Linked DNA regions of Homo sapiens. The protein of the gene in region 1 purifies or fractionates together with the protein of each later gene. This does not show direct contact. Each region holds a gene or a part of one and is shown in the gene's direction. Other genes may lie near its edges.

The links. Proteins that work in one complex are often made in the same cells at the same time.
Region 2: the proteins of ABCE1 (region 1) and GSPT1 purify together in Homo sapiens (affinity purification with mass spectrometry; 2 studies listed by BioGRID and IntAct, with this or other methods). This does not show direct contact.
Region 3: the proteins of ABCE1 (region 1) and YAE1 purify together in Homo sapiens (affinity purification with mass spectrometry; 2 studies listed by BioGRID and IntAct, with this or other methods). This does not show direct contact.

The regions. Positions count from the first base shown.
Region 1 is NC_000004.12:145,094,227-145,101,344, forward strand, and holds the start of ABCE1 (ATP-binding cassette sub-family E member 1), read left to right. Parts: upstream 1-4,084; 5' UTR 4,085-4,193; exon of another isoform or gene 4,194-4,345; intron 4,346-7,118. Other genes in the region: ANAPC10 (anaphase-promoting complex subunit 10), read right to left, coding at 1,759-1,885, 3,019-3,108. UniProt on the Homo sapiens protein: Nucleoside-triphosphatase (NTPase) involved in ribosome recycling by mediating ribosome disassembly. Able to hydrolyze ATP, GTP, UTP and CTP. Splits ribosomes into free 60S subunits and tRNA- and mRNA-bound 40S subunits.
Region 2 is NC_000016.10:11,905,950-11,912,983, reverse strand, and holds part of GSPT1 (eukaryotic peptide chain release factor GTP-binding subunit ERF3A), read left to right. Parts: intron 1-7,034. UniProt on the Homo sapiens protein: GTPase component of the eRF1-eRF3-GTP ternary complex, a ternary complex that mediates translation termination in response to the termination codons UAA, UAG and UGA.
Region 3 is NC_000007.14:39,562,105-39,569,410, forward strand, and holds the start of YAE1 (protein YAE1 homolog), read left to right. Parts: upstream 1-4,299; 5' UTR 4,300-4,314; coding exon 4,315-4,443; intron 4,444-7,306. UniProt on the Homo sapiens protein: The complex LTO1:YAE1 functions as a target specific adapter that probably recruits apo-ABCE1 to the cytosolic iron-sulfur protein assembly (CIA) complex machinery. May be required for biogenesis of the large ribosomal subunit and initiation of translation.

The DNA.
Region 1 (7,118 bases):
AAAGACACTAGACCCAATAAGCTACATACAGTATTTATATCGGCATTCTGGGAAAGGCGAAACCAAAGGGACCCAAAACTGAGCTGTCAGGGGCTTGGAAAGGCCCAGAAGACTGACCATAAAGAGACATGAGGGAACTTTGTGGGATGATGGCAATGTTATATATTCGATTATAATGCTGCTTATATGACTGTACATGTCTGTAAAATTCACAGAACTGTACACCTAAAAAGGGTAAGTTTTATAGTATGTAAATTATACCTCAAGAAAGTGCTCATAGAAAGACAGAGAAGGGAATCTTGAGGGGAAACAGAAGAGGCTTGGTTGAGAGGATGGATACAGGAGTCATAATGTGCAAATAATAAAAGTTTCTGAAAGAAAGATGACTACTAAACTAATAACATTATAAAGTCCCTCAAGCTAAAGAAATTTCTCCAAGCTTGAGTCTGCAGGTGAAAACTGCCTATAAAATTATGGGTTACAAGGGTGAGAAAAGATATCTGGCAAATGCCATGAACTCAAGAATAAAGAGAAAAACCTTAGATGCTTCCAGAAAAAAACAAGTTACTTAGGAAAAAAAAAAAAGAGAGGTAGGCATAGGCCTTTATATCCACAACATGGCAAAAGAAGATAGTGAAAGAGCATTCATAAATTTTTGAGAGAAAAGGACTGCCACCCAAGAATTCTATCCCAACAAAGAGTAAAAGGAAAGTATTTTGGCGTATGTTATCACTCATTTATCCAATTGAGAGAAACGGCCAAAAAAAATAAATGAATAACAACTGAATCATAGTAGAGATAGAGGAGGAAAAGAGAAGACCTTATGACATATGTAATTAAATCTAACTAGGGAATAGTAAAGAAATTGGACAGAGATATATGATAAAAAAAAATTCAGTGCATTAGAATTAAAATAAAGCATCTAAACAAAAGGAATATTAAAATCAGACCAGTGTACAGTAGTATCTTTATCTGCAGTTTCATCTCCGCAGTTTCAGTTACCCTTGGTCAATCATGGTTCAAAATATTAAAAGGGAAATTCCAGAAACAAACAATTGGTAAGTTTTAAACTGTGTACTGTCTGAGTAGTGTGAAGAAATTTCTCACCATCCTGCTCCATCCCACCCAAGACATAAATCATCACTTTGTCCAGCACATCCACCACTTTGTCCAGCACATCCACCACTTTGTCCAGCATATCCACACTGTGTATACTACCTGACCGTTAGCCATCAACATCATCTGCTCCTGATATCCAATCATCAACATCATCGTGGCTTGATGATCCAGAATCACCAGAAGCAGATGCTCCTCCTTCTGAAGTATTGTCAGAAGGTTAATAGTAGCCTAACACTACATCACAACACCTACATTCTTCACCTCACTCGCTCTCATCACATAGACATTTTATCTCTCACATCATCGCAGGAGGAAGGGTACAATATAATATTTTGAGAGCGAGAGAGACCACTTTCACAAAACTTTTATTACTTTATTACTTCTATTGTTATAATTGTTCTATTTTATTATTAATTATTGTTAATCTCTTACTGTGCCTAATTTATAAATTACACTTTATCACAGGTATTTATGTATAGGAAAAAACATAGTATTAATATAGAAAGGGTTCAGTACTATCCATGGTTTTAGGCATCCACTGGGAGTCCTGGAATGTATCCCCTGGGATAAGGGGAGATGCCTGTACAAGGAAACTGCAAGTGACTATTTCCAACAGCTTTTTTGTTTGTTAGTTTTTACCTGGTTTGCAAGATGAGAGTGACCAAACAGCTTGTGACCCAATTTCCCGTACTGTTCCAGTCCTTTCCAACTGCTTGGGGTCAGCACCAGGAGGTGTCTTGTTTGGTGTAGTCATTTTTAAAATATTCTATGTAGAAAACAAGAATGCACACATTGTATCAGGAACTGGGCATCTTTCTACAAAAGTTTTTTACCAAGAAAAATTTAATGGAACTCATATACCCTGACATTAATCATTTATTCTGAAGAATGCAGTTAATATAATTAAATCACTGTAATTTAAATCTTAGGGGCTGGGCATGGTGGCTCACACCTGTAATCCCAACACTTTGGGAGGCTGAGACAGGAGGATCATGTGAGCCCAGGAGTTCAAGACCAGCCTGGACAACATGGCAAGACCCCATCTCTATTTTTAAATAAATAAAAATCTTAGGAATTCAGGTTTTGTTTCATATGACCAGATATGCAAAGCAGTGAGCTATAGTAGTCAAAAGAGCACAGAATCAAAGTTTTGGCTTCAGTATCTCCTTTAATCAGCCTAGACTTTGAGTAGGTCTGGGCTTTATTTCCTCTCCTGTTAAAGAGGTTCACTTGATGATTTTTACTTCTACAATGCTATGCAGTTCTATAATTCTGTGCCTGAAAATTCAAATGACTTTTAGCCCTAGAAAAGTCAGACTGAAATACTTTTATTCTAGGAATATATAAATATTGATCCTCATTTTATTTACTTAATTCCTTTTTTTTTAGAGACAGGATCTAGCTATGTTACCCAGGCTGGTCTTGAACACCTTGCTTCAAGCGATCCTCCCACCTCAGCCTCCCAAGTAGCTGGGATTACAGGTGTGATCCCATCACCCCACTAAGATCCTCATTTTAAATATTCATTGAGTGATGCAGAGAACAGTCATACCTGCCCTCTAGCTGTCAAAAGTTTTATTTAAGACCCAGCCCGGTGGCTCACACCTGTAATCCCAGCAGTTTGGGAGGCCAAGGCAGGTGGATTGCTTGAGCCCAGGAGTTCGAGACCAGCCTGGAATATGGTGAAACCCTGTCTCTAAAAAAATTCCAAAAAATCAGCCTGGTGTGGCGGCACACACCTGTAGTCCCAGGGGGGCTGAGACAGGAGGATCACCTGAACTGGGAGGCGGAGGTTGCAGTGAGCCGAGATCGTGCTACTGCACTCCAGCCTGCGTAACAGAGCAAGACACTGTCCCAAAAAGCACAAAAATAAGAAAAAAATGTTAAAAGTTCACTTACATATGCTCTTACCATAGAAGATAAGGTCAGGAAAATGGCTTCAAGATTTTGAAGTGAATAACTGGCCCATTCTAAAAAGGTTGACCTCATCTTTCACATCTTTTGTTAATTTTACTAAGTCTATTCATATGTGAAAAAACACTTCAATACTGGATCGTGAACAATATGTAAAACTGCTTTGGTAGCGCAGTTACTGCTACTGAACATTGTTATATATGCTATTCAAAATAGGTGCAATAGTTCTGCATACCGTTTCCTTGACACCTCCCATTGTATCCGAAGTTGTTCTTTAATCGGCACACAAGCACTTGATACTTACTAAATAACGGCAGACACAACGGACTGTAAACTTTGGCAAGGCCTGAGGCTTAAACGCTCAATAAGTAATTTACTGAATGAATAAACAGATGAATAGGTTCAGTTATGAACTAGTTGTCACTTGCCTGCAAGTTAGGTGAGATCTAGGGCGAGACTATTCAACCTGCAACCATCATTACTAACTGAATGTCCTGTTACCTAAAAAAAGATAGAAATAAAGCCCATCTTTAGGGCAGAATTCAACTGCCGGACTTGGGACTGGACGCCACCAAGTGGATAAAATATGGAGCTCGGAAAAGATTGGATTCCCGGCCCTGAACTGACCACACAGTTGAGAGGAAGTTGAGGCCTAGAAGAGCGCGCAACAGTAAGCCGTGTCGGCACCAGACTCTGTTGGTCCTACTGACACCTCCAGCGTTAGAATGACTAAGGCTCCACTCCTGACCCACCGGCCTTGAGGAAAGCGCAAACGTAAAAAAAGATTGAAACCGGAGAGGCGAATGCATCTGTTTACGCTAGGACCACGCTCGACGTCGGAGAAAAGCCCACACACTCACAGTTTCCAGACCTGGCTGCTTGCCGAAACTCAGATTCTCGGCACCTCCAGCAGCTGGCTTCGCCAACGGCGTTGAACAAGGGTCGCAGCTCAATGACGTCATATCTCCCTACCTACCTCCAGGGTTCCGCCTCACGCTCTATGTCGCGCGCGCGCACTACGTCCTATGGCTTGCGCGTGCGGCGGCTGGGCACCGCCATTTTGGCCGGTGGCCGTGAGAACACGCTGTGTGGCTGAAAAGTGAAGGCAAGAGCTGATTTGGCCTCTGTGCTCCCCTCCGCAAGGGGATCGTTTTCTCCAGGTACGTGAATAGCCCGGAGAGGTTTGGCCGTTAGCTGCCATCTGCCAGGTTGGAAAGAATGTAGGGACGTTCTCCGAGAGCCTTTGGTTAGGCCTTAGGTGGCGGAGACAGCAGCAGCGCGTGGCAGCGGTTCCTGCGGGACAGCTGGAACTGATGGAGCGCGGGCGACGCCGAGAGCTTGGGGGCGCCTCGGTCTTCCCCTCCAGCCGACCCGGCTGTCGCCGCTGTTGCCTGCCACACCCGCGAGGGACTTCGAGAATGGACCTAGATGCCGTAGTCTCCACTCCCCCTTTACCCCACTCCCGCCCTGAAGCTAAACCTGCTGGAGAGGAAGGCACCTTTAGAACTTACAGCACTCTCTAGTACCCCCACACTCCTCCAGCACCCAAAATGGATATATTGTCACATGTGCATATTTGGTTGTGGGAAGTCGTGGCTTCCACGTTTTGTTGAGTGGAATGAGTCATGGCATCTTGCCGCCATGAAGTCGAATACTCGCTGTCCACTCCCAGGCTTTATAGAAATGATGCCCACATGTCACTCTGCTTTTCTCAGAACAGCGTGTACGCAGCTATGACTGGGGTTGTCCCAAGTAGTTTCCCAGTAGAAATCCTATAGTTTTTTTGGTACGCTTTTGTAGCACTAGGCACTTTCTCCCCTTACCCGTTTTTCCTTTTATTGTATCTAATACTCATTGAGATCAAGGTTGATGTCTTTACTCAGAATACCTTTATTATCTCTTCAGGGCTTCGTACATTGTAGGCATTTAATACGTATTGTGAATGAATGACAGCCAAAGCCGAATTCCCACCTCCCATTAACTACATAAGCTTATTTTCTCTTTTTTGATGGTAAAAATCTATAAGAGGAAGAACTGTCCAAATAACATGTTTTATTTTTTTACTCTTTCCCAACAGGACTGCTAACTAGTCATTTATGATAGTGGCATTTATGTTGCAGTAGTTTGTCCCATATTCTGAGAATATTCATTGTATACCAGCCACCTGACACTAATACTTTGTTAGTGTAACCAAAGGCTCAGAACCTGTATTTGAACCAAAAGCTGTTTGGGGTTTGTGAGCTTTTTGAGAACTTAGTTCTCCCCTATTTTAAAAAAGGGAGTTTTTTTGTTTGTTTGTTTGTTGGAAGAGCATCTAACAATTGGGAGAGAGGGGGAGAAAACAATATTAAGTTAGAGTTCTTCTAAATGTCTTAAACTTAAAACTCTTTGAAATCAGAGCCGTGTACCACTCCTAACTTCTACGTGTTTTGTAAGACTAATAAACTACAATAAGCATGGGTTAGACTATTTCATGTGATACTAAACATCATTAGTTAACAGCAGTCTTTGAAATGCTTTTACACAGCGTTACAATTATTTTGGCTTTAGACTGTAAATGCTTCTAAGTATTCCTCACTTCCTTTTTTCCTCTCAGCTGTAAGAATGACACTGAGGGTCATTGTTCTAGTGTCAATTTTGAACACTTTTGTCTTCGAATCTGAAATATCCGCAAATCCTTCTTTGTTTGCAGGAGCCTGTTAACTATAATCTTCCTCTCCAAGCTTTACTGTGCCTAGGTTTTCTATTGAAAAACAAGTAGGGAATCCCCTTGCCCCAATTATTGAAACTGATACAGAAATTGAATTAAAAGTGTTCACACAGTTAATTAACAGTTCTACAAAGAATCCATGTTCATTTTTCTTAAATGCATTACAATTTATCACTATTTTTATATAAATCAGTTTATTAACCACTTCTGGTATGTTTTTATTCTACTGTAAAAATCAAGCCAGGGTAGTGACATGCACCTATAGTCCCAGCTATTCGGGAGGCTAAAGCAAGAGGATCCCTTGAGCCCAGGAGTCCCAGTCTGTAGTGTCCTGTGATCACTGCCCTCAGCCAGGACACCATAGCAAGATCCCTGTGTCTTTTTAAAAAATTGTCTTTTACAGTCTTTTGGTTTTTAAAATAGTTTGAAAAATTAAATATTTTAGTAGTTTAACAGAAATAAAGTTTAAGCAATTTCGTGGTGATTTATCCCCTGGAGGGGAATTCATTATGCTCTTTCACTGAGTAATTGTAGAAAGGCATTCAGTATTTAAATTAGAATGCATGGTGTCCAGTTTTAATAGCTTGCTGAAGAATCTTCATTTCCTAGGAAGTTGTCATTTCCCGAATAATAGCTTTTTTGTGACAATTCAAGCCATCTAATTTCTTCCTCTTCTAATCTTTACAAGACCTGGACCAGTTTTTAGAGGAATAGAGTCAACCTGTTTATTGGAATAACCCTGTACTTATTACATGAACATTTAGTCTCCTTTTGAATGATTTTTTTTTTCAGTATGTAGTTTAGTGGACAACTGTCACTATAAAATATTGGTAACTTGCAAGATTTCTAAAGTTGTTATAACCTACAGGAAAATTATTTACTATATTTAAATTCATATTCTCATTCATTTAGCAGAAATGCTTGATCTCCTGTGTGCTAGGCACAGGTTCAGCCACTGGAATGAACAAAAATTCCTACCCTCATGATGGATGGAGTACATTCTACTTGGGGAGGGGAAAAATGTGTATGTGTTTGTAGAGAGACAATATACATACACACACCCACGATAGATGTGTGCATATACACCAGATATATATAAAAAAAATATATATATGGAATATATAGTATGTCATATAGTTGAGCTAGGGAGAAAAATAAAGCAAGAAAGAAGGATGAAGAGGCAGTTGGGTGTATTTTTCGGTAGTGTATATTGTGGTAGTGTAGTTACAAAAGGCTCACTGAGAAATAGTAAAGATTGAAAGGAGTAAGCCATGTAACTCTCTAGGGGGAATAGCATTACAGGCAGAAAGTGCCAAGATCTTGAAGCAAGAACATGCCTGGCATGTGCTAGGAACAACAAAGAGCCAATGTAGCT
Region 2 (7,034 bases), on another chromosome or scaffold:
CATGCCGGGAAAGCTGTTGAAGGAGCCTGGAGAGTCAGACCTTGGGATTCAGTATTGACCTTGGATCTCTTTGAAAACTAAAGAATATAGGTTCCTTAAGAAATAATTAAGTGGAACCCATTTAAGTGTAATTAAGTGTAATTCATTTAAGCACAGTTCTCTAGAGCCAAGTAAATTGGCCAAGAGATTCTCCTTAAAAAGTGAGGTCCCCAAGTGAATAAAAATATAGAAGACAAGGCTTAATGTATATTAGAACAAGCATTTTATCTGATAGGATGTATTTAAGTTGCAATTTGCACCTAGTTTTTTTTATTGTTAGATAAGAAACTGGTTTAGTAATTTTAGGGTTACTTGAACTTTTTAGAACAGCCAGAGCTTCTAAAGTAATGATGTGGTGTTCTTTGCATCATCCCACCTTTAATGCTTCTCAGAACTCACTGCCATTAAGAAACAAGCATGGAATAAAACCAGCAGCCCTCAGTACTTACTTGGAGGAGGCACTGTCTCCAAAACTTAGCAGATTGTATTGTGGAACTTGAATTTTAAAGAGAAACATTCTGTTTTGTAGTGTTCCGTATTTGCTGAATGCCTTATTTATTGGAAGAGGAGGTTTTTTTTTTGTTTTTTTTTTTTTTTGAGACGGAGTCTTGCTCTGTTGCCCAGGCTGGAGTGCAATGGCACGATCTCGGCTGACTACAACCTCCTCCTCCCAGGTTCAAGCAATTCTCCTGCCTCAGCCTCCCGAGTAGCTGGGATTACAGGCACCTGCCATCATGCCCAGCTATTTTGTGTGTGTGTGTTTTTGCAGGGATGGGGTTTCACCATGTTGGCTAGGCTGGTCTTGAACTCTTGACCTCAGGTGATCTGCCCGCCTTGGCCTCCCAAAGTGCCGGGATTACAGGTGTGACCGCGCCTGGCCTTTTTTTTTTTTTTTTTTAAATGATTGACATTTAACTTACACACTGTAAAATTCACCCTTTTCAACTGTACAAGCTGGGCGCATTGGCTCACACTTATAAACCCAACACTCTGGGAGGCTGAGGTGAGAGGATTGCCTGAGGCCTCCATAAAACATAGTGAGACTGAGACCCTGTCTCCACAAAAAAAAAAAAAAAAAAAAAAAAAAAAATACAGCTGGGTGCAGTGGCTCATGCCTGTAATCCCAGCACTTTGGGAGGCCGAGGTGGACGGATCACCTGAGGTCAGGAGTTCGAGACCAGCCTGGCCAACGTGGCGAAACCTGTCTCTATTAAAAATATAAAAATTAGCCAGGCATGGTGGTGCGCGCCCGTAGTCCCAGCTACTGGGGAGGCTGAGGCAGGAGAATCACTTGAATCTGGGAGGCGGAGGTTGCAGTGAGCCGAGATCACACCACTGCACTCTAGCCTGGGCGACATTGACACTCTGTCTCAAAAAAAAAAAAAAAAAAAAATAGCTGGGTGTGGTGGCACAAACCTGTAGTCCCAGCTACTTGGGAGGTTGAGGTGGGAGGATCTCTTGAGCCCAGGAGCTGGAGGCTGCAGTGAGCTATGATGGCACCATTGCACTCAGCCTGGGTGACCAAATGAGACACTGTCCAAAAAGAAAAGTAAAGTGTACATACAGTTCAGTGGCTTTTAATATATTTGTAAGGTTATGCAACCATCACCACTTGGCAGATGCTTTTTAGAATATTCTCAGTTTTAAGCTGGAACATCTCAGAAGTGACCTCTTCAGGGCCACCAGAGTAGAGAGGATTCCAAATCAAAGTAATGGTTGTTTAATCCAGAAAGGCCCTTACACTTTATTAATATGTTAAATTCTATCTGTTGAGGTAGATAATAGGTAAGATTCTGTATTTGAGAATGTGTTTTTGAGACTGAAGTGCCTGCAAGAACAGTGCTCATATAAAGGTGTTTTTAGGCTTCAGTGGGACAGCAGATGGGGTAGAGGAGAGGCCCCACAGTATCCCTGGAGTATCACAGTAGTAAACACTGCCTTTCGTTACTTCTCCTGCCATGGCTGACCTTTTTGTCTCTTGTTTCATGGTTTTACACGTATGAATGGCTTGAGACTGAGGATTTAGGGAAGAAGCGAAGGCATCATCTAGGGCTGTGCTGTGCCAAGTTGAGCAGTTGTTTAAACTGTTAGAATTTTTGACTGGTGTAAAAACCCTCTTTGGAGCAGGTATTACGTAGTGCTGTCAGTACATATCTTATTGCATTCTTCTGTTCTTTATTTTTTACCTTTTCTGAAGTTGCACAGCGTGAAAAGACAGCAATTTCAGTTTGAACAAGTTAAGGAAGTAATGTAGACGACAAAGTTTAAGCCTTGATTTGCTTGCTTTGGTTTGCTGGGGAAGAAATGTCTGAAAGTGTTCAGATAGTATTTTCTTTCTGGTTGAAGAGAAAGGAATGAAAAAGAGATTTGATAACCTTCTGGGTTGAGTTAGCAGTATTGGAATGGAATTTTTTTCCAGAAATGCGAATTTCTGGTTTTGCTCAGATATATGTACTAGCGACTCATTAACAAACATTTACCAGTCCACTGAATGAAAGATGCTATGCTAGGCACTTGAAATAACACCAAGATGAATAAATTGTGGTCCTGAAGGAATCTAGAAAGGGATCAGATGCCCAGTGTACTCTAGTGGAAGTCACAGTGTGGTAAGTGAGCCCTGCAGAGAGTGTAGAGAAGGCTTTCAAAGCCGAGAACAGCAATCCCTTACGTAAAACCTCTCAGTCTTGTCACTCTCATAAAACTAAAGATTTATCTATTATCTGCTCACTGTTCTTTGCGAATGCCTTGTGTGTATTTTTTTTTCTGGCCTCCTGGGCCAGAGTTGCAGCCAAAGCCTGATCACCAAGGTTGTGTGTATTTTAAAAAACTTTTTACTTATTATTTTTTAGAGACGGGATCTTACTTTGTCACCCAAGCTGGAGTATAATTGTGTGATTATAGCTCATCGTAACTTCAAATCCCTGGGCTCAAGTGATCTTTCACCTCAGCTTCCTGAGTAGCTAGGACTATAGGCACCCACCATGACGCCTGGCTAAGTTTTTTTGTTTGTTTTTGTTTTTTGAGATGGAGTTTCGCTCTGTCACAGGCTGGAGTGCAGTGGCCCTAACTCGGCTCACCGTAACCTCTGCCTCCCCAGGTTCAAGCGATTGTTCTGCCTCAGCTTCCCAAGTAGCTGAGATTACAGGTGCCCGCCACCACGCCCAGCTAATTTTTGTATTTTTAGTAGAGATGAGGTTTCACCATGTTGCCCAGGCTGGTCTCGAACTCTTGACCTCAAGTGATCCACCCGTCTCGGCCTCCCAAAATGCTGGGATTACAGGCGAGAGCCACTGTGCCTGGCCAAGTTTTGTATTTTTAAGTTTGTCGAGAGTGCTGAAGGTAGAGCACTGGTTATCTTTTTACAGTACTTGTCTATTTCGTATTAAACAGCAGTGAGTTCAGTTACTATGAGTCTGGCTAGTGTGTCTATTGGGGCATGTTTAGAATTTCATCATTCTACCCTTGGTTTTAAAATATCTTCGGGAGACAAGAATTTGGCTACTAGTTGAAGGATCTGAGGTCCTCAGAACAATCAAGAAAACTGACAGTTTTTAGCTGTTGATTGTTGATTCATTTCAAGGCTTAGAAGTTTCTGCCTTGTTTTCAGTAGAGTTTAACAAAGTGAGCCGAGACTGTAGATTTATATGGCTCCTTCGTAAATGGCTTTGTTCTAAGGAAACCTAGTTGTTACAGTACTCTAAGTTGAACCAGTTTCCCATCATAATTCTACTTTCAAAGAGAGAAGAACACTTAATAAGGCTTTCCCGAGCACCTGACCTAACAGTGGTGACACTCACTTCCAAACCACATTCCCACTAGGTAATTGTATGTCGCTTCACTTGAAAAAAAAAAAGCGCATTCTGCAGAATGTCACTGGGTAATTTCCTGGTTGAATATTTCTGTAGAACTCCAGTATGTTACCATACTACTTGTCCATTGCCTTTAGGTGGTTAATTTTGGTAGCAGAAAAATGTTTCGGTTATTTTTTTATTTTTGACATGGAGTCTCCCTTTGTTGCCCCGGCTGCAGTGCAATGGCGTGATCTCGGCTCACTGCAACCTCCACCTCCCGGGTTCAAGCGATTCTCCTGCCTCAGTCTCCTGAGTAGCTGGGATGACAGGTGCGCACCGCCATGCCTGGCTAATTTTTGTATTTTTTTTTTTTTTTTTTTTTTTTTTTTTTTTTGAGACGGAGTCTCGCTCTGTCGCCCAGGCTGGAGTGCAGTGGCGGGATCTCGGCTCACTGCAAGCTCCGCCTCCCGGGTTCACGCCATTCTCCCGCCTCAGTCTCCCAAGTAGCTGGGACTACAGGCGCCCGCCACTACGCCCGGCTAATTTTTTGTATTTTTAGTAGAGACGGGGTTTCACCGTTTTAGCCGGGATGGTCTCGATCTCCTGACCTCGTGATCCGCCCGCCTCGGCCTCCCAAAGTGCTGGGATTACAGGCGTGAGCCACCGCGCCCGGCCTAATTTTTGTATTTTTAGTAGAGACAGGGTTTCACCATGTTGGCCAGGATGGTCTTGGTGGCTACTGACCTCAAGTGAGCCACCCACCTCGGCCTCCCAAAGTGCTGGGATTACAGGTGTGAGCCACCGCACCCGGCTGTTTCTGTTATTTTTGTACTTTTTTGAGGGTATCTGAAATGGTTTTGGTTTGTGTATTTTAAATGTTATTTAAATGGTTTTTTGTTTCTTTTTTGTTTTTGAGATGAATCTCTCTATGTCGCCCAGGCTGGAGTGCACTGGCACGATCTTGGCTCACTGCAACCTCTGCCTTCCTGGTTCAAGCGATTCTCCTGCCTCAGCCTCCCAGGTAGCTGGGATTACACGTGTGCACCACCATCCCCAGCTAATTTTTGTATTTTTAGTAGAGACGGGGCTTTGCCATGCTGGCCAGGCTGGTCTCGCACTCCTGACCTCAAGTGATCTGCCCACTTCAGCCTCCCAAAGTGCTGGGATTACATGTGTGAGCCACCGCGCCTGGCCTCAAATTGTTTTTGAAGTAGTTAGGTTGTAGCTCATAAGACTGTCTTTCAGGGTTGTTTGAAAAACATAATGGAATTTTAGTTACTCTATGCAAAGTCTGATCAGGTTGATAATGTGGCATTGCTTTTGTGTCCGAATAAAGAGGTTCTTAGAATGTTAGCGCTGGATACGACCCTAGCAGTTGTACAGCCTCTTCATTTTCAGATAAAGGAACTGGAGCCTTAGAAATGCTAAGTAAATGCCTAAGGTCACTCACAGAGTTAATGACACCATTGAGTCTAGAATGCAGATTTGCTACCTGCTAGTTTAGTGCTTGATCTGCCACATCATGCTGTTTAATAACAGGGGGCGGGAAGGGCATGCCTGGAGCTAATTACTACAACTAGCGTGTAGTTTTCTGAGAGTGGCCCTGGCATTTGCCTAATGTTTCATTCTTAAAGGTTTTTGAAATTATTTTGGGGCTTTGAAGTGCTTGCTGTAATAAATTTATTGAGCATTTACCACCCCTTATCAGTTATTTAGTCTTCACAACATTCTCTTGAGGTTAGGTACTGTTGACCCATTTTACAGATGAGAAAATAAAGGCTCAGTAAAGCTAAATAACTTAGGTCAGTCATATCCATGAGAGGAGTGAGGCTTGGAATCGAGGTCATTTCAAAGTTTATTCTAGTAGTGACTGCTAGTGCTTTCCTTGTGATTTTGTATTAAAGTAGACTGAGACTCTCCAGAAACTGGACCTGTGAGCTTGGACCATGGCATTTCTCTGTGTTCTGTCTCAGTAGTAGCAGAATGACATTTGTCATAAGTAGGCAGTGCTCTGATTTAAAGCAATATTTTGAAATTACTTCTTTTTACATTTTAGCAAGTGTTGATGTAAAATACTTTAAAACAGCTCTGTTCACCACTGTCTGTACCGAGCCTTTTTATTTTTAGAGTGTTAGGTAATTAAGGCAAAACCATCCACATTGTTTTATGTGTTCTGTAGACTTCTTTCTGGTGTTTGCTTTTACTGTTTTTCAGTATTGTCTACAGGAGAAAAAAAGAAAAACCTCAGCTTGCAAATTTTTGTTCAGAGATGGGATCGTTCTTTGTTGTTGGAGGGATTTACATTAAAAAAATTCAAGAAATATTGTCTCATGTGATCTTACCAGATAAGTGCCTATTATTAAGACTTGTTGGCTGCTGGATTTATTATCTTAGCCTAATTTTCTTTCTGAGTTAAATGAATCTTGCTTTTTTATCGTTACCACCCTGGCATAATCCAATGGGAATATAGTATGAACCACATAGTTAATTTAAAATTTTCTTTCTTTAATTTTGTTTTTTGAGACAGGGTCTCACATTGTTGCCCAGGCTGGAGTTCATTGGCACAATCATAGCTCACTGTGGCCTCAACCTCCTGGGCTTAAGTGATTCTTCTGCCTCAGCCTCCTAAATAGCTGGGACTACAGTTGTATGCCTCCACGCCTGGCTCATTTTTACATTTTTTTTTGTAGAGACAGAGCATCACTGTGTTGCCCTGGCTGGTCTTGAACTCTTGGCCTCAAGCAACCCTCTTAGCTTGGCCTCCCAAAGTGCTGGGTTTATAGGCGGGAACCACCACAGCTGGCCCAACATCTCCTGAGTGTAGTGTTTCCCTAACCCCTTCTTAGAAAGTTGGCACATTTAAAATTGTTTTCACTCTCTTGAGCCCTAATGGAAATGCAATGAATGTACAGATGGAGGCTAGGGGTCCTGGTCAGAAAAGGGAAGTGAGGCCAGTTGTGGTGGCTCATGCCTGAACCCAGGAGGTGGAGGTTGCAGTGAGCCCAGATTGTGCCACTGCACTCCAGCCTGGGCGACAGAGTGAGACTCCATTTCAAAAAGAAAAAAGAAAAGTGAAAAAATGAAGTGATGTGACTGGAAGGAACCAGTGTGAAAATCAAAGGAAAACACAGTAATTCAGTAAAAATTGATTGTGTATTTATTCTATACAATACATCATGCCAACTTGTTGAGACTACTGAAGTA
Region 3 (7,306 bases), on another chromosome or scaffold:
TGGATCAACTGACACTCAAACATTGATGGTGGAAGTGTAAAGTGGTACTATCTCTTTGGAAACACAGCTTACAGTTTCTTATTGTATTAGTCCATTCTCATGCTGCCACAGAGGACCGCTCCAGACTGGCTAATTTATAAAGGAAAAAAAGTTTAATTGACTCACAGTTCCGCAGGGCTGGGGAGGCCTCAGGAAACTTAAAATCATGGTGGAAGGGGAAGCAAACACATCCCTCTTCACATGACGTCAGGAAGGAGAAGTGCCAAGCAAGAGGGGGAAAAGGCCCTTATAAAACCATCAGATCTCATGAGAACTCACTCACCATGACAAGAACAGCAGCATGAGGGTAACTGCCCCTATGATCCAATTAACTCCCACCAGGTCCCTCTCATGACACGTGGGGATTGTGAACTACAATTCAAGATGAGATGAGATTTCGGCGGGGACACAGCCAAACCATACCACTTGTTTTTTTGTTTTTTTTTCTTTTGAGACAGAGTCTCGCTCTGTCGCCCAGGCTAGAGTGCACTGGTGCGATCTCAGCTCACTGCAACCTCCACCTCCCAGGTTCAAGCGATTCTCCTGACTCAGCCTCCTGAGTAGCTGGGATTACAGGCGTGTGCCACCACGCTCAGCTAATTTTTGTATTTTTAGTAGAGATGGGGTTTCACCATGTTGGTCAGGCTGGTCTCAAACTCCTGATCTCATGATCTGCCCGCCTCGGCCTCCCAAAGTGCTGGGATTACAGGTGTGAGCCACCGTGCCCGGCCCATACCACTTATAATGTTAAATGTATACTTACTATATGACCAGCAATTCCACTTCTAGATATTTACCCAAGAGAAATGAAAACGTGTACACAAAATGGCATGTACAAAAATGTCCACAGCAGCTTTATTCATAATAGCCAAAAACTGGAAACAATCCAAATGTCCAAAAATGACTACATGAACAAATCATGGTATAGCCCTATAATGAAAATAGTACTTAGCAATAAAATAGATCAATCTACTGGTACATGCAACCAAATAAATGAATCTCAAAAACATGTTGAGTCAAAGAAGCCAAATATATTAAAGGACATATACAATTCCATTTCTATGAAATTCTAAACTGGCAAAACTAATCTAGTGATAAAAATTGGATCAAGGGTTGCCAGGGATGAGAGACTGACCACAAAGGAGCACGAGGAAATTCTCTGGGGTGATGGAAATTTTCTATATCTTCATAGGTGGTGTTTACACTCAAAATGTATGCATGTTACTGCATGATTTTAAAAATGTGTTCCTGACATTTACAAATATAGTACTAAATAAACACTAAATACTAAACAAACATGTCATTACTATATTTAATAATATTTGTTGGTATTTCAAGTGGAATATTTATCTCATTTACATTTCTAGATGATTATTACTAGAAGAGGCTATTGGTGTGTTTATTTTTCTTATATTCACAGACTTTATCAAATTTCTTTATTCTGTTATTTTTTAAGCAAAGTCTTTTGGGTTTTCTAGGTATATAATCATATAATGACCAAAAGGAATATCTTAGGCTGGGCATGGTGGTTCATGCCTATAATCACAGCACTTTGAAAGGCTGAGGCAGAAGGATCACTTAAGGCCAGGAGTTCAAAACCAGCCTGGGCAACAAAGCGAGACCCCCGTCTCTACTAAAAATAATTTAAAAATTAGCTGGGCATTGTGGTGCGTGCCTGTAGTCCCAACTACCTGGGAAACTGAGGCAGGAGGATTGCTTGAACCCAGGTGTTTGAGGTTGCAGTGAGCTATGATTGCACCACTGCATTCCAGCTTTGGTGGCAGAACAAGATCCCGTCTCATTTTTTAAAAAGGAATATCTTCATCTTTTATTATCCAACATTTATACATGTTATTTTGTTTACTTCTCTTATTGCAAGTGCTAGTGTGCTAGTCTCTAAAAGAATATTAAGTAATAATAGTGACTACCAGATGCCCTCTCCTTTCTATATGTTAAAGGAAATATCTGAACATCTAAGTGTTTAAAATACTACTCGTTGGAATTTTTGTAAAGTCTTTACCAATTTGTAGTTTCTATTTCTACTTTATTTTGTTAGAAATGATTTTTAAATTTTTTCAAATAACTTTTTAGCATTTATTAATATAACATGTTTTTTCCCTTTTATATTGTTGATGCAGGCTAGGCACAGTGGCTCATGCCTGTAATCCCAGCACTTTGGGAGGCTGACACAGGAGGATAGCTTGAGCTCAGAAGTTGGAGACCAGCCTAGGCAACATAGTGAGACTCCTGTCTCTACAAAAAAATCAAAAAATTAGCCAGGTGCAGTGGTACATGCCTGTAGTCCTAGCTACTCAAGAGGTTGAGGCAGGAGGATAGCTCAAGCCCAGGAGATCAAGGATGCAGTGAGTTGTGATCTCACCACTGCACTCCAGCCTGGGTGACAGAGCAAGACGCTGTTTTAAAAAAAAAAAAAATAGTCAATGCAATGAAATATTATTGATGTCCTAATATTGCAAAAGTTTGCTTTCCTGGTACAAAACCTCTTAAATTATTCTTTTGATAAAGTACTACCAGGTTGGTGCAAAAGTAAACCCCAATTAATTTTGCACCAACCTACTAGATTCTCTTTTGGATATATATTCACAAGCTAACTTGAACTTTGGGGTTTTTCTGGTACTATCTTTATGAAGTTACAGTAAGGCTGGCTTCATGAAATGATTTAAGGAGTTTCTTCTTTTTCTCTCCCCTAAAATGGTAAAAATAGTTTAAGACTCCATCATTCCTTAAAGATTGCAAAGGACTTAATGTGAAACTCCCAAGTCTCCATGACATTTTTAATAGTAGATATTTAATGTCCAATTTTTCTATGGTAATTAGTCTCTTCATGACCCTACTTCTTGGGTCAATTTTCTTAGAAAGTCATTCATATCTCTCAGGTTTTCGAATGTGTTGCTTTTGAGTTTTAGTTGGTAATTAATATTTTAATCTCCTTCTGCATCAGTGGTTATCTCATTTCTCATTCTTGTATAATTTTGTTCTCTTTAAAAATCTGGGTCATGACAGGATTATCTATCTTATTGGTGTTTTCAAATAATACAAAAAAGAATTGGACTTACTTATTCAAGTTTTGAGGTTTTCTATTTTATTGTTATCTTTATTGCTTACTACCATTTTGTTCCTAATAAAGATATATACATATATCTTAATATATTTACATTAATAAAATATACATATTTGTAGTTTATATATTTTTTATTTGTGGGATGCCAAATTCTCTCTGGAGATTTAAAATTGTAACATGAACCAACCACCCACTCCCACACACTTATGGTTCTTACTGTGCTTATTTAAAAATTTTTTTCATAGCATTTATTTATGATCTTCTAACAAACCTTATGCTACTTATATATTGCTTATTGTTTATCCTGTCAATTTTACATGACTATAAAGTCGACAAGGGTTGGGAACTTCCGTCTGTTCATTGATGTATCCCAAAGCCTGGAATGGTACCTGACACAAGGTAGGTGTTCAATAAATTGTTAGATAAATAAATCATAATCACATGACTCATTTTACCCAGGCAAAGGGCAAAACAGGAATACTACAGGTATTCATTCATTCACCAAAATAGAGTTCAGCATTTACTATGTGTCAGAACTGTCCTGGTGTTGACACAAGTCCCCACCCTTACCAAACCAACTGTTTACTTTAGGGCATATGAACAGGAATGGGAGGCAGAAGGATATCGTGAATCAATGAAAAAATATATTGGCTTTACAAATGTACTCTATATTTCTTACTAATCTCAAATTGGCTACAGTACCTCGCTTTTCGATCCTATTTTCCTTTACTCCACAATCCTAACAGTTTAAAATGTCGGCTTGTCAAATCCTTTAAATGCAGAGGAGATTCCAAAAGAGACAAAGTATTTGGGTGGTAATCGCCCATCGACTTTACTACCTTTAATAGTTTACCAAAGCGCGCGAATGTAAAACCCAGACCATGGTAAGACTACGGTGGAAATGGAAGGTGTCTCACTGAGGGTCCCGGTTGCCTTCTGCAAAGGTGAAGGTCGTGCCGGCCACGCGAGGAAATCTGCCTCGCTCACAACTCACAGGCACACATCAACACTGCCAACCGAGGGAGCCCAAAATCACCGCAAGCGAAAGGCTCCGGCGGCGGCCACGGGCCACAGCCCGCCTCCGCGCACACGCAGCCCCTCCCGAGCCTCCACTCGCCGTCTTCGCCCCGCCTTCGGACCGGAAGGAGTTGTTGGCGCTTCCGGTGGCCTGCGACCCCGTAATTGCCTCGGTGATGTCGTGGGTTCAAGCAGCCTCCTTGATCCAGGGCCCTGGAGACAAAGGGGACGTGTTTGACGAAGAAGCAGACGAGTCGCTCCTGGCGCAGCGGGAATGGCAGAGTAACATGCAAAGACGAGTCAAAGTAAACGTGGTGTGGACGGCGCGGGGTGCTGGGTTGTGGGAAGAGGCGCGGAGTTGTGAAGAAGCTGGGTCCAGAGTGGCCCCAGCCTGGCCCGGCGCTGCTCTCTTTATCCCTAGGGACCCGGTCCGACCCGCGTCTTGCTAGGATTTCTCGATGGTTACTTGAAAGCGTGTAAAACAACAAGACGCATTCTTTGAGCGCCTACGGGATGCGTTAGAAACTGAGGACCGACCAAAATTAACTATGTGTAGACTTTGAACAGTTTGCAGTTTGTTGAGGATCACAGGGAAAGGAGCTGGAGAGAAACATACACTATACTTATTATGGCTGTCAAAGGACGTGTACGCAGTTTATATGGGTGGCTTGAATGGGTAGGGAGCCTAAAGTTAAGGAGTAGTGTTAATCAAGACATATTGAAAAGATGAACTAAAGCATGCTGTCAGAGGACAATAAGGGAAAGCTAATGTGGAATACTGGTGTCTAGGTAAGGGAATATTAAAGTTGGTTTCTTTTTTATTTGTTAGATGTAACTTTTTCATCTCTAATTTGTCTCACTATTCATTGAAACTAAGCTTAATTTCTGTGTGCAGCCTACAGTATTTCTGGGTGAGGACCAAATAGTGAGGTCCACATCCACTTAATATATTTGCCAACCATTAAATTGCCGCTAAAGCTGCAGTTGGGAATCTGCCCTGTTTAATATTTCAGTAGAGTGGTATTTGCTTAGCCCAAAAACCATGTTGTCAATTACAAAAATGCTTTATGTGAGACTGGGGCCACACTAATAAGTATTGAGCATCTTTTAAATGCTGTGGCACCGTGAGAGATGCAGAACGAAATCACTACCCACAGAGCTTTTGCAGGTTAGTTGAATTTAGGTATTATGCAAAATTTCTGAAACCAGACTTCTCATCATCCTTTTTTTTTTAAACAATTTCCTCTCTCTGCTTTGCCCTGTCTCCTCACCCACCCACACCATTCCAATCAGTTGGCAAGAGCCCAGATGTGTAATTTTCCATATATCCTTTTTGTGAAGACATTGCTAATGCTGGGTTTTGTTTTTTGTTTTTTGGTTTTTTTAATCTTTTGAAGTGATTAGAAAAGTTTATTTTGTGCTTAGGATATTTTTCTAAGGCATCACAGGTTACACATCCAAACTCTTCAATGGTATAATATTTTATATTCTAAAGGAGAGACCTTTAAAGAAAACTTGTACATTATGCTACTATAAGTCTAGTGGATTCTCCTATCCGCAGAGCCTAGAAAGAAGGGGACATTACAGAAATTGTCTACTACATAATGGTCAGTTGATTCATTGTATTTATGGTTTTCCCCCTTCTTGTAAGGTGAAAACTATGTATGCCCTTTAAGGAGTATGCTCTTTAAGGAGTAAAAATACACTAAGTGTACCATCCTGTTGATTTCTACCTGTAAGATACCACACAATATTAGCAGTTAGGAAAGAACAGGAAAATATGAAGTTTGTATCTTAAAATATAAAAATGTGTGGCGAAACCCCATCTCTACTAAAAATACAAAAATTAGCCGGGTATAGTGGCGTGCACCTATAGTCCCAGCTACTTGGGAGGCTGAGGCAGAAGAATCACTTGAATCCGGGAGGCAGAGGTTGCAGTGAGCTGAGGTCATGCCACTGCACTCCAGCCTGGGTGACAGAGCGCGACTCCATCTCAAAAAATAATGATAATAATAAATATATATATATATAGTTAATGATTTTGAAACATCAAGCATTACAGACTGTAAAATTAATTAAGAACTTTCTGTATATGATGCCAAAGATACATTTAAAACATATACAAGAAGATGCTTTTTCCTGAGTAGAATGCAAACTTTGTTTTATATTAACCTTCTGTGAATTTTCAAAATGTAAAATACCAGGACTTTTCCACATCAGACAAAAATCAGGAATGTTCACCTTCACATCCAAAAAGAAAAATTTTAAAAGACAATTTCAAGTAGTTCAGCAAGAATGATTTAAAATCTGAAATGAATGGCCAAAATTTTAAATTATCAACAGACAGTTCAATTTGATGGATCTCTCAGTAAACTTCAGTTTGAAACAACAACAAAAAATGCTGTTTACTAAATCATAAAAGATAATTCCAGGATATTATCCAATTTGAAAAATAAAAAATGTAACCCGTAATAAATAAGAAAAATACAAGAGAAAATCAACCTTTATTGGAATCGAGAGAATACCATGGACTTTAAAACTTCCTAAATCAGTAGCTTATCCTATATTACCATGTGTAGAAAACTGCAACTAATTAATGTAAGGTAGTTTTTATTAGTTGCATAACTTAAAAATATGAGGAAATTTTGGAATATATCTCTAAAACCACGGAATTGTCACTGAAATATATATTTCTTGAGACAGTGGGCAAAGTTCCCATTTATGGGAAATACTTTCCTTTTTTCACACACATGAAACTGAGAAAAATTATATCAAATGAGAAATATTTTTCTCTAAAATAATCTTAAGTACCCCAATAATGCAATACTGGGGAAATGTAAATTTTCAAAACTCAGATTTGAAACAGGTTATTATTAAACAAATATACATAAATCTTATTGTTTGGCAAGATTTTTCAAAAATTAGAGAACTAGTTAAACCACCATACTGTCCTTAAATCATATTTCAAACTTACATACCTAGTGCTTTTATGTTCTGAATGTAGAGTCTTCAATTTAATGACAATCTAGACTGAATGCTGTAATATACAAGCAAGTCACAGTTCACTTCAAACCAAAAGAAATAATCAGTCTTCTGTTTTTATCAAAATCATGATATTAAGATAACTATACAATTTATCTGTGACCAGTGATGGACCCAGAGAGTGTT